Linked DNA regions of Homo sapiens: region 2 is linked to region 1. A link means that fine-mapping ties the variant in region 1 to the expression of a gene that starts in the linked region. Tissue or cell type: whole blood. Region 1 holds a variant in brackets; the other region holds the start of a gene. All regions are shown on one strand. Distances are between the middles of the regions.

Region 1 (5,379 bases):
TAAGGAAGTTGGCAACAGGGAAGGTCTTCCAATACAAGGACACCATCACTACGTACAATGTAGTTTCAAATGATGCATATGAGCACCAGATAAAATTGTCAGTGTTTAGAAACTATTACTTTGAACAACACTCATACAGCAAGATGCTTTTTACACTGTAAGGTACAGAGGAACTGGCCTCACACAGACCAGCAGATTCATATATAAGGCACAGATTCACTGAGTAGAGTAAGTAGCCATGCCTTACTTTTCCTCTGCTGGGCACTAAGTTGAATTTATCCAACATAAACGCATGTCATGCCCTGAACCACTTTGACTTTCCTCACTAAAGATTATGTAAGAAAGTAGCAGGATGGCAACTGCCCTATTTTCTTTTTCGAGACAGAATTTCACTCTGTCACCCAGAGTGCAGTGACACGATTTGGGCTCACTGCAACCTCTGCCTCCTGGGTTCAAGCCATTCTCCTGCCTCGGCCTCCCAAGTAGCTGGGACCACAGGTGTGTGCCACCACGCCCAGCTAATTTTTGTATTTTTAGTAGAGATGGGGTTTTGCCATGTTGGCCAGGCTGGTCTTGAACTCCTGGGCTCAAGCGATCCACCCACCTAGGCTTCCCAAAGTGCTGGGATTACAGGCATGAACCACCGTGCCCAGTCGAAAACTGCCCTATTTTCACAATGAATACACAAAAGAGCTATAAAATTAAAACATGAAGCTCCTTTGTGGTAATCATTAATGGAGCACAAAACCCTCAAGACAGCCTATGAAATGCCAGTTCAATTCTGTGTCCATTCTGTAATTCAGGAAACCTCTACCAAAATATCTTACAAAGGAAGTATTCTGCCTTACTAAATCTTTCATTTAATGAAATACTGATCTGAAAACCCTGAATCGAAGTAGGGTGAAATACATTCAAAAAGTACCAAGCATGTGCCATGTGCCAGGCACTGTATGCCAGTGAGCAAAGAACCCTGCCTTCACTGCGTTTAGCACAGGAAGTAAAACAAAGAAAGCAGCAGGGCAGAGCACCAGGATGTCAGGCTGCAATTTTAAAGAGTGGTCAGAGCAGGCTTCATTGAGATGACGTTTGTGCAAAAAGTCAAAAGTGGTGAAAAAATTTTCCATGAAGTTTTGTGGGAGAAGAGCATGCTAGGCAGACACTAGCAGTAACAAAAATCCTATGCTGGAAAAACAGCAAAAGTGGCCAATGTGGACAAGGTAGAGTGAGCAGGAGGAATTCAATAGGAATTGAATGAGGTGGGGTAGAGTGCAGGTAATTTAGGGCTCCACAGACCTTTGTGAAGTTTTACTTTTACTTAGGAAGCCATCTAAACAAGACTTAGACTTTTAAAGGATCAGTCTGGTTGCTATGAGAGTAGAATAGGATGGGTGAGAGGAGACAAAATGAGGCAAAACAAAGACCGGTTAGGAAACCACAGAAATAATCCAAGCAAGCTATGATAGTGTCTTGGATTAGGGTAATAGCAGTAGAGATGTTAATATTTTAAGGTGGAACTAAGATCAGATGAAGGATGTGAGGAGTGCAAGACCATTTCTGCCTAGAAACAAAGAATGGAGTGGCCATTAAGTGATTGAGGATGACTGAGAGGAAAAATTTCAGAGGCAAAAGTAAGTTTTAGACGTAAATTTCGAGGTGTCTACTAGATACCTAACTGAAGATGTCACATGAAGACGTTAATATAATCTGATGTCCTTATGATGAGATCACCAAGATGAGTACTAAGAGAGGAGGCAAGCAGCCCAAGGTCAAGCTCGGGGGCACACCTATGTTTTAGCAAAATGCAGGGAAATGAAGATTGGGCCAACAGCAAGACAGAGAAGGAGCAGCCAGTAAAGGAGAAACGTCAAAGCAAGTGTAGTATTTTGCAAGCCAACTGAAGAGTGCTTCAAGGTCAAATGCTGGCTGCTGATTAGATTTAACAATGTGGAAATCTTTGCTGCCTTTTACTAAGAGTAACAGAGAGGAGACGAACTCTAATCACCTATCAGATGACCTAACCAAGTGTCCAAACTTAACAGCCTGGAAAAGCCGTAACTGTTGTGATGCAATATGGAGACCATAGCATCACCTTGCACTCTTG[CACA/C]ACAAGTTTAACCCGAAACTTGCGAAAACTTTAGACCTTTCAGTTTACAGAAAGTTCAAAGGGATATCAGAAGTTAAAATTAATGACAGTACAAAGAAAAACTCAACAAGACAACAGGCCTAGTATTTCCAGAAAGTAGGAATCTTAATTGAATCGTGTTTGGGGGATGAGGGTAGCTATTTAAAAAAGAGACACATGGAAAAATCTGAAATAAGGACTCGATGTTAAATTAGGGAAGTATTTTAAGTGGGAAAGTCAACTTTTCTGTTTGAATTTCTTTTCCTAATAAAACAAGTTGGTGAAAAAAAAGGAAGGGGTAATAAACTGGAGGAAGTTTAGAAAACTGAGTTTTGCTTTTATAAAGGGGAGCACTAAAATAATCACTAGCAAGGGATATAGGATCAAAAGATTTTTTAATAACATGCTTATTATGCTTTTGGAAATGATTTAGTAGAGAAAGAAAATAGATGCAGTAGAGAGAGGAGAGGACTGCTGGAGCTGTATCTTTGCCTGAGACATAGGTTTGCATCTCGTGCTCCTTACCTGGGGCAAATGCAGGAGCAAGAGAATTGTGGGAGCCATGTATCCATGAGTAGACATAGACTATTCGGGTGCTTTTGTAGAATATTCATTTAATACCAATTACTGTAAGAGTTTGAAAGGAGTAAAGAGAACCCAAACAGGGCAAAAACAAGTCATTTCCAACCCTAGCTGCTTAAATCACCTAGGCAGCATATTAAACAGATTCCAAAAGTTCTCCCCTCCCACCAATTGTCTAAAGCAGTCTCTGGGGATAGGTAGAGCCTGAGAACCTTCTACCATTTTCTTTAGGGTCGTGTCAAGTGCTTGCCATAGGCCAAAGACAGCTTTAGTAGTTTAAACCTCCAATATTTATTTTTCTCAGATTGCCTATTTTTCCAAAAGTACAAACGCTTATACCTATGTGCACTTGTTAAAGATTTACTAAACACATCATAGTACAGTACTGTATCAGTACTGCCTTTTACTGGAAGAATAAGATGACTATTAACACAATTCTGTAGATACTTATTACAAGCAATTTCAGGGATTTGGGGAATTCAGAATCCCTAGGTAGCTAAAATAATCTATTGAAATCATGTGTGGTTGGTTATTTGGACTAATCAACTACCGGACCCATCTAAAGTCAGAGTAGCCCATAAGCTAGGACTTTTGCATAAGTGATAATGCAGAAATTTGGCTGTGGAGCAAAAAAAAAAAATTTTTTTTTTTTTTTTTTTTTTTTGAGACAGAGTCTCACTCTGTCACCCAGACTGGAGTGCAGTGGCATGATCTCAGCTCACTGCAACCTCTGCCTCCTGAGTTCAAGCGATTCTCGTGCTTCAGCCTCCCAAGTAGCTGGGACTACAGGCTATCCTGCTAACCAGTGGTTCTTAGCTGGGAACTGTTTTGTCCCTCAGGGACATTTGGCAATGTCTGCAAACACTTTGGTTATCACAATTGTGGGAGGGGGTTTAACTGGCCTCTAGTGGTAGAGGCCAGAGATGTGGCTAAATATCCTATAATGCACAGCAATAGCCACCACGACAAAGAATGATCTGGCCCAAACTGCCAGTAGTGCTGAAGTTGAGAATCTCTGTTCTAGACCATTAAAAGGGGGTAGAATTGGCCAGGCGCAGTGGCTCACGCCTGTAATCACAGCACTTTGGGAGGCTGAGGCAGGCAGATCATGAGGTCAAGAGATCGAGACCATCCTGGCCAACATGGTGAAACCCCGTCTCTACTAAAAATACAAAAATTAGCTGGGCGTGGTGGTGCATGCCGGTAGTCCCAGCTACTCGGGAGGCTGAGGCAGGAGAATCACTTGAACCCGGGAGGCGGAGGTTACAGTGAGCCGAGATGGCAGCACTGCACTCCAGCCTGGTGACAGAGCAAGACTCCATCTCAAAAAAAAAAAGTAGGGGGGAAGGGCATAGAATCATGCACCTTATTGCTACCCTGTGCTATACCAATGTTTCTCAACCACTAATTGGCATATAAATTGCCTGGGCACCTTGTGAAACCACTTTCTAGGCTTGTTTTAAACAGAGAATTGGTGAAATGTAATTACCAAAGCTAAAAATAAAAGAGGTCTGGCTGGGCGCAGTGGCTCACGCCAGCATTTTGGAAGGCCGAGGTGGGCAGATCACCTGAGGTCAGGAGTTCGAGACCAGCCTGGCCAAAATGGTGAAACCCTGTCTCTACTAAAAATACAAAAAATTAGCCGGGTGTGGTGGCACATTCCTGTAATGCCAGCAACTCAGGAGGCTGAGGCAGGAGAATCGCTTGAACCTGGGAGGCAGAGATTGCAGTGAGCCGAGATCGTGCCACTGCACTCCAGCTTGGGCAACAAGAGCAAAACTCTATCTCAAAAAAAAAAAAAAAAAAAAAAATTCCTTTTTCTTCTAACTTGGTCAGTTATAAATGTGTATTTAAGATTGTCTTAAATTTTGGAAATATGCTACTAGAATTCAACAAATGAATTCACTGAAGCATGTTTTTGCTTACTTCATTATAAGAAAGCTATGTCTAGAAACCATGTATGGAAAGGGAGTCAAATTTGCTGAATCATGCTTTTGCATATCAAGTTCTTAAAAGAAAAAACTGGATCCTACTGATATCTGAGGTAATTCTATAGCAATTAAAATACCTGTAACATTCTATCAGGCAGTAAGTTACAGAAGAAGGAATTTATATATATATATATATATTTTTTTTTTTTTAGTAGAGATGGGGTTTCACTGTGTTAGCCAGGATAGTCTCGATCTCCTGACCTCGTGATCCTCCCGCCTCGGCCTCCCAAAGTGCTGGGATTACAGGCATGAGCCACCGCGCCCAGCAGAAGAAGGCATTTAGAATCAGAACTCAGTGTTTTGAAACAGCACTCAAATCTTAGAAAATTAACTTCACTGATTCCTGGAAAATGCTTACGTTTTAAAACACCAACTTTATTCAAATACTAACCCCATCTGTACATTAAGAAACAAGCAAAATAGAAGTAAATGTTTTATTCTTCCAACTAAATTCCAGTACTACAAGGGCAGTAAAACAATGATACACTGGAAAAAAAAAAATGCAGCAATAAACATTTGTTAAAAAGACTGATAGAATAAATAAAACTACAAAAAAAAAAAAAATCATACAAACCCATTCTGAAACCCCAAGAAGTCCTGGAATACAGAAATGCCCTCCTCCTTCACTATTTCACAGGAAGCACTGCAGGCTATTTGCTTAATATTGTCCTGGGATTACATTCT
Region 2 (5,379 bases), 30 kb after region 1:
ATGACCTTATTTTGAAATGGCTTTATTAGTTAAGTACAGAATCCATTTCAATTTCCAATGATACCATTTCACTAAAAGACAAATTCCAAAAATGTCAACCACCAGTAGCTCATTCTTGACATTGGCTGTTTCCTTTTTTTTTTCCCAAAGTAAAGCCTAACAATTAATCAACAAATGCCTTTTCAATCTAATTAAAACACAGTTTAGTAAGGTCATTAAATAAATTTATCTAAGAATTTCCGTAAAAACTCACTACAACTCTAAAACAGTATGTCCTTAAATTAGACCAAATATTTAATAGCAAAAATGGTAGCTTGCATATTCGAGGGTCACTCCATGGATTTAGAAAATATTTTTAAATGTGACAAAAAAAAAAAAACACTAAAGTCAGTTTCAAATGGAAGTCACCAAATACAGAGGTATATACTTCGGTTTTTTAAGCTACTGATAACGAGACATTTAAATCAAGCTATGGAAAGGCTTTGTCTAAAGGGTGATATTATTACTAAAGGCTCACACAGAAATCTTTGCATGCTACACACAAAGGAAACATTTACACTTCTAGTCCACAAAAGCCTATCCTAGGATTGTGCCAGGGGCACACAAGGATTTCAAAGTACAGAAAAAACTGGGCATACACATGCCCTACAAAGCAGCCAAAAGACATTCCCCAGTCTCTCTCAGGAAATGTTTCAAGATGAAAAGCAAAAGTCTGAAGTCCCTTGGAATCTTGGGTTGATTTCTTCATTATTCTCAAGGCTAGGTTGTTTTCCCCCAGCATACTTTGTTGGGCAAAAATAAAACATTTCCAAATAAAAGCAACTCCTCAGCCCCAATTTTCAATGCAATATGCTTATTAAAAGTTCAACATTTCTCAAGGTCTAGACTTATAGTGTGATCATATTACAGTACTCGGGAAGAGCATTTTCTTTGTTGTTGACCCTGCTAGGGAAACAGGTCTTGACTCAGCCAAAGTGGCGTTCTTGTGGGTGATTAATGACAGGCCTAGATCTCGCCCTAGTGACATCCATCCCCCACCCCCCACCCCCACTATACTAAAATCAGCCGTGTCTGAACTGAAGGAGGGGCTGTAGCCTCGCCTCAAACCACCCAGTCCCAGAGTTAATAGCTGCAACCAATCGATTACGGCAAGCACACATCCAGATTGGGGTGAAATGTGACCCTTTCGCCTAAATTTACGAATAATATCGTCCTCTCTGATCATTTCCGCTGGGGCTCCAGCGACTACGGAAACAATTCCAATCATTCGGCCCAAAGAAAAAGATGTCCCTGTTCTACCCAATACGGGCAAGGCAAAGCCCCTACCCACCTCCAAACACTATCCCCTTGACATCAGCCCATTTCTATTGTGTCTTATTAGGTCCTCGGGCTACGAGGACCTAGTGAAAAACGTGGCTGCCCTACTACTTTGCTAAGAACAAGAACCACACAGTCCGGCACCCCCACCCCAGGGGCCGCATCCCACACCCCAGGACCCCTGTTCCCAGTTCTCTCCACTACCCCGGCGGCCGCGGGGCCGGGTCCCACCTGTGGTGAGGCGGGAGGAGACGTCGCCGAAGGGGGATGGCTCCATTCGGAGATACTTCTGCGGCGAGGCGGCCGCAGCGGAGAAGGAGGCGGCGGTGGCCGCGGCCGCCGACAACGGGGAGGCAGCGGCCGAGGTGGGCGCCGACAATGGCGCACATCGCCTGCGCTTCGGGGACGCCGGGCTCAACAGCGGGTCGAAATCCAGAGTCCTTTTCAGAGTGGCTCCGCACGCCATGGCCGGGGGCAGCTGAGGCGCCGGGCTCGGGTGGGGTCGGGGACGGGTGACGAAAGAAGAGGGTGAGGGAAGGGGTGAAGAGCGGGAACTCGAGGAGAGCCTACCCGACGGGCTCAGGAGCCAAGCGGGTCGCGGAGCGCCGGCTGTGGAAAGGAGAGCCGCTGCCGCCGCTGCCTCCGCGGCAGGGGCAGTGGCCAGGGACGGCCCGGGTGAGAGCGGGAGGGGCGGTGGCGGGCAGAAGCACACGCCAGTCGCGTCAGGGGGGTTCTTCCGCCTCCTCAGGCGCGGCTCCCCCGAGAGAGGCTCCGGCCGCCCCCGCCGTCCGCTCGAGCTTTGCGCCGCGCCTGAGGCGCTTCTGTGCTGAGACTAGATCCTTTCTGAAGTCGAAAACAGCACCGTGGGGTGTGAGGCTGGAACGCGGCTCCTAATACGCCCGAGTACGGTCAGTAGCTTGCGAGCGGCGATCGATGCAGAGAGATTGCGAGGTAGCTGCCGCAGCAGGAACCCAAGCGAACACGTCCAACCGCTTCCCCTCCCTCGTAGAACTCTCCCACCCGCCGCCGGCCCCAATATGGCGTCAATAACAACGCCGCCGATTCAAATCCGGCGGCCTCAGAGCGCTTGCGCACGGGGGCGGGCCAAACCGGGGATGCATTTTGGGAGTTGTAGTTTTTAGGTACCGGGAGGAATCGGCTTGAAAGGCGGGAAGGGAGGAGTCACAGAAACTACGACTTCCGTCATGCAAGGCGCGCGATTCCGAGTTCCGGGTTGGAATTTAAATCCCCCTACACAGCTTGAGTGTAAGAGGAACTAAGCAAAAGAGAAAAAAAGAGAAGGTTCTGAGACAGTGGGAGATGGGAAAGCGAACCCGTGGCAAAAGCAGGCTAAGCGACATAGAAATCTTTTAAGATTCTCCGTATAGTTGCTCCCACAGTGATTTCAGATCTGGGAAATATAATAAACCAATCTCTAGTCAAAGTTAGCTTAATTTCGGTAGCGACAGTACCCAAAACAAGACCTTTCACATGGAGAGGATAGGAGATAATGAGATTATGAAACCTATTTAGGACTGGCAGACAGAACAACAGTAATAGTATCAGGTTACAGGATCCTTGATTCAACTCGATGCTCTACCCTTCGGAGGTAGCTGCTTCATCCACTAATGAAATTCTGTAAAGCCAGCTTTGCTTCTGTAAATGAATAGGACTTGAACGACTTACAGAATCAAATTGTTTTGCGTTGGGTAAAAAGCAAGTGGTATCAGACATTGCATTACTTCTGTTGAATATTGGTGCATATATTGTGAACTTTGTTACAAAACTAATCAAAAGACAGTGAAATGTTTAGGTAATAGATATTGGATGGATCCATTTTGTAAGCGGAAGGGGAAAAAAGTGTTTCTAGAAGTTGTACTTTTAGTCACATACCTAAAATAAGAATCAAATACAGCGCTAATTTAGAAAGTGATCTGTGTAGCCGGGCATGGTGACTCACGCCTGTTATCCCAGCACTTTGGGAGGCCGAGGCAGGCGGATCTTCCTGAGGTCAGGAGTTCGAGACCAGCCTGGTCAAAATGGTGAAACCCCGTCTCTACTAAAAATACAAAATTAGCCGAGCGTGGTGGCGCGCGCCTGTAGTCGCAGCTACTCGGGAGGCTAAGACAGGAGAATCATTTGAACCCGGGAGGCGAAGGTTGCAGTGAGCCGAGATGTTGCCACTGCACTCCAGCCTGGGTGATAGAGCGAGTCTCTGTCTGAAAAAAATGAAAAGAAAAGAAAATGATGCCGGGCGCGGTGGCTAACGCCTGTAATCCCAGCACTGGGAGGCCGAGGCAGGCGGATCACGAGGTCAGGAGTTCGAGACCAGCCTGTTCAACATGGTGATACCCTGTCTCTACTAAAAATAAAAAAAATTAGCCGGGCGTGGTGGCGCACACCTATAGTCCCAGCTACTCAGGAGGCTGAGGCAGAAGAATCGCTTGAACCCGGGAGGCGGAGGTTGCAGTGAGCCAAGATCAAGCTACTGCACTCCAGCCTGGGTGACAGAGCTAGACTTCGTCTCAAAAAAAAAAAAAAAAAAAAAAAGTGATATATGTAGAAACTATCACCAGTGCAATATGAAACAATTTTGTGAATGCCAACTGTCAAATGATTATAAATACTGATTTCCAGTGCTCATGTATTCTTCTTTATTCAGTAACAGATGTTTTATAGCCATTTTGTCTATTATTTTTAAACCATATTTAGAAGTAGTTCAATATATTCTTTTTTATAGACAATTTTATAGAATTGTCCAGTGCTTCAGAGATCAGCAGTCCTGATCACACTGTGTCAACAAGTAAGCCCTTCTAGTTTTAATTTAGGATATTTGGAAATATCCTACATTTCCTACATTTGGAAAATCTTTTGAAAAAGATAAGCATTTAATGAAACAGCAGCTTAACTAAGACACCTACTAGGTAAATTTCTAGTAAATTCTAAACACTTGGTAATATTTTCTGAAATTAAGATTTGCCCATAAGTTATAAAACCTACATTTGAAATGTGATGTTGTGAGTTAAATTCCCTATGTTTGAGGGAATTCAAGGACTTCAAAATTCATATGAAGTCCTAACCTCCAGTACCTTAGAATATGACTTTACTTAGGAATAGGATTATTTCAAATGTAATTAGCTAAATGTAGTAGGATGGGCCCCTAATCCAATATGACTGGTATTCTTATACAAAAAAGGAAATTTGGGCCAGGTGCGGTGGCTCACACCTGTAATCCCAGCACTTTGGAAGGCCGAGGTGGGAGGATCACTTGAGGCCAGGAGTTTGAGGCTAGCCTGGGCAATGATAAGAAACCTCATCTCTACAAAAATTTTTAAAAAATTAACTAGGCATGGTGGTGGTCACCTGTGGTCCCAGCTACTCGGGGCAGCTGAGGTGAGAGGATTGCATGAGCCCAGAAGGTTGAGGCTGCAGTAAGCTGTAATCACACCACCACACTCCGGCCAGGGTGTCATAGCCAGACCCTGTCTCAAAAAAAAAAAAAAAAAAAAGAAAAGAAAAAAAGGCCAGGGTGAAGGGGAGACTGGGTGGGGGTGGGAATTTGAACCCAGGCATGGGCCCAAGGGAATTTTGACCCACATGAACATGAACATGAAAATAGAGATTAGGGTGATGCTTCTACAAGCCAAGGAATGCCAAAGATTGCCAGCAAAACACCAGAAGCTAGGAGAGAAGTTGTTCTCCCTCAGTCCTCAGAAGGAACCAACCCTGAAAACACCTTCTCAGAGTTGTATTCTCTAGACCATGAGACAATAAATTTCTGTAGGTTAAGCCATCCAGTTTGTGGTACTTTGTTATGGCAACTGTAAGAAACTAATACAGAGAGGATTGTGGTTATCAGGCTATCATTTGAAATATACCAGAATGCCTAGAAAATGAGGAAAGTATTTTTTTGTTTAATTGTGGAGACAGAGGTCTAAGTTGCCGAGGATGGTCTCAAACTCCTGGCCTCAAGTGATCCTCCCACTAGCATTACAGGCTAGCATTACAGACTAGCATTACAGGCCGAGCCACTGCACCCAGTCAGCAAAGTGTTGTTGTACT

The links. PIP is the estimated chance that this variant, and not a neighbour inherited with it, causes the effect.
Region 2: it holds the start of AKIRIN2, and the variant in region 1 is fine-mapped to the expression of AKIRIN2 in whole blood (TOPMed, PIP above 0.99).

What each region holds. Positions count from the first base shown.
Region 1 is chr6:87,669,811-87,675,189 of GRCh38, forward strand. AKIRIN2 (akirin 2) reads right to left here. Exons shown (of 5, transcript NM_018064.4): 5 at 5,050-5,379. It also overlaps a transcript of ORC3 not described here. Among named protein-coding and RNA genes, the nearest start is that of AKIRIN2, 30 kb to the right of the region's middle. RefSeq lists a silencer at 2,748-2,948. The variant CACA/C (reference allele first, on the strand shown) is at 2,102.
Region 2 is chr6:87,699,902-87,705,280 of GRCh38, forward strand. AKIRIN2 (akirin 2) reads right to left here and starts at 2,332. Exons shown (of 5, transcript NM_018064.4): 1 at 1,549-2,332. The coding sequence starts at 1,783. RefSeq lists silencers at 1,504-1,713, 1,894-2,063 and enhancers at 2,224-2,283, 2,594-2,903.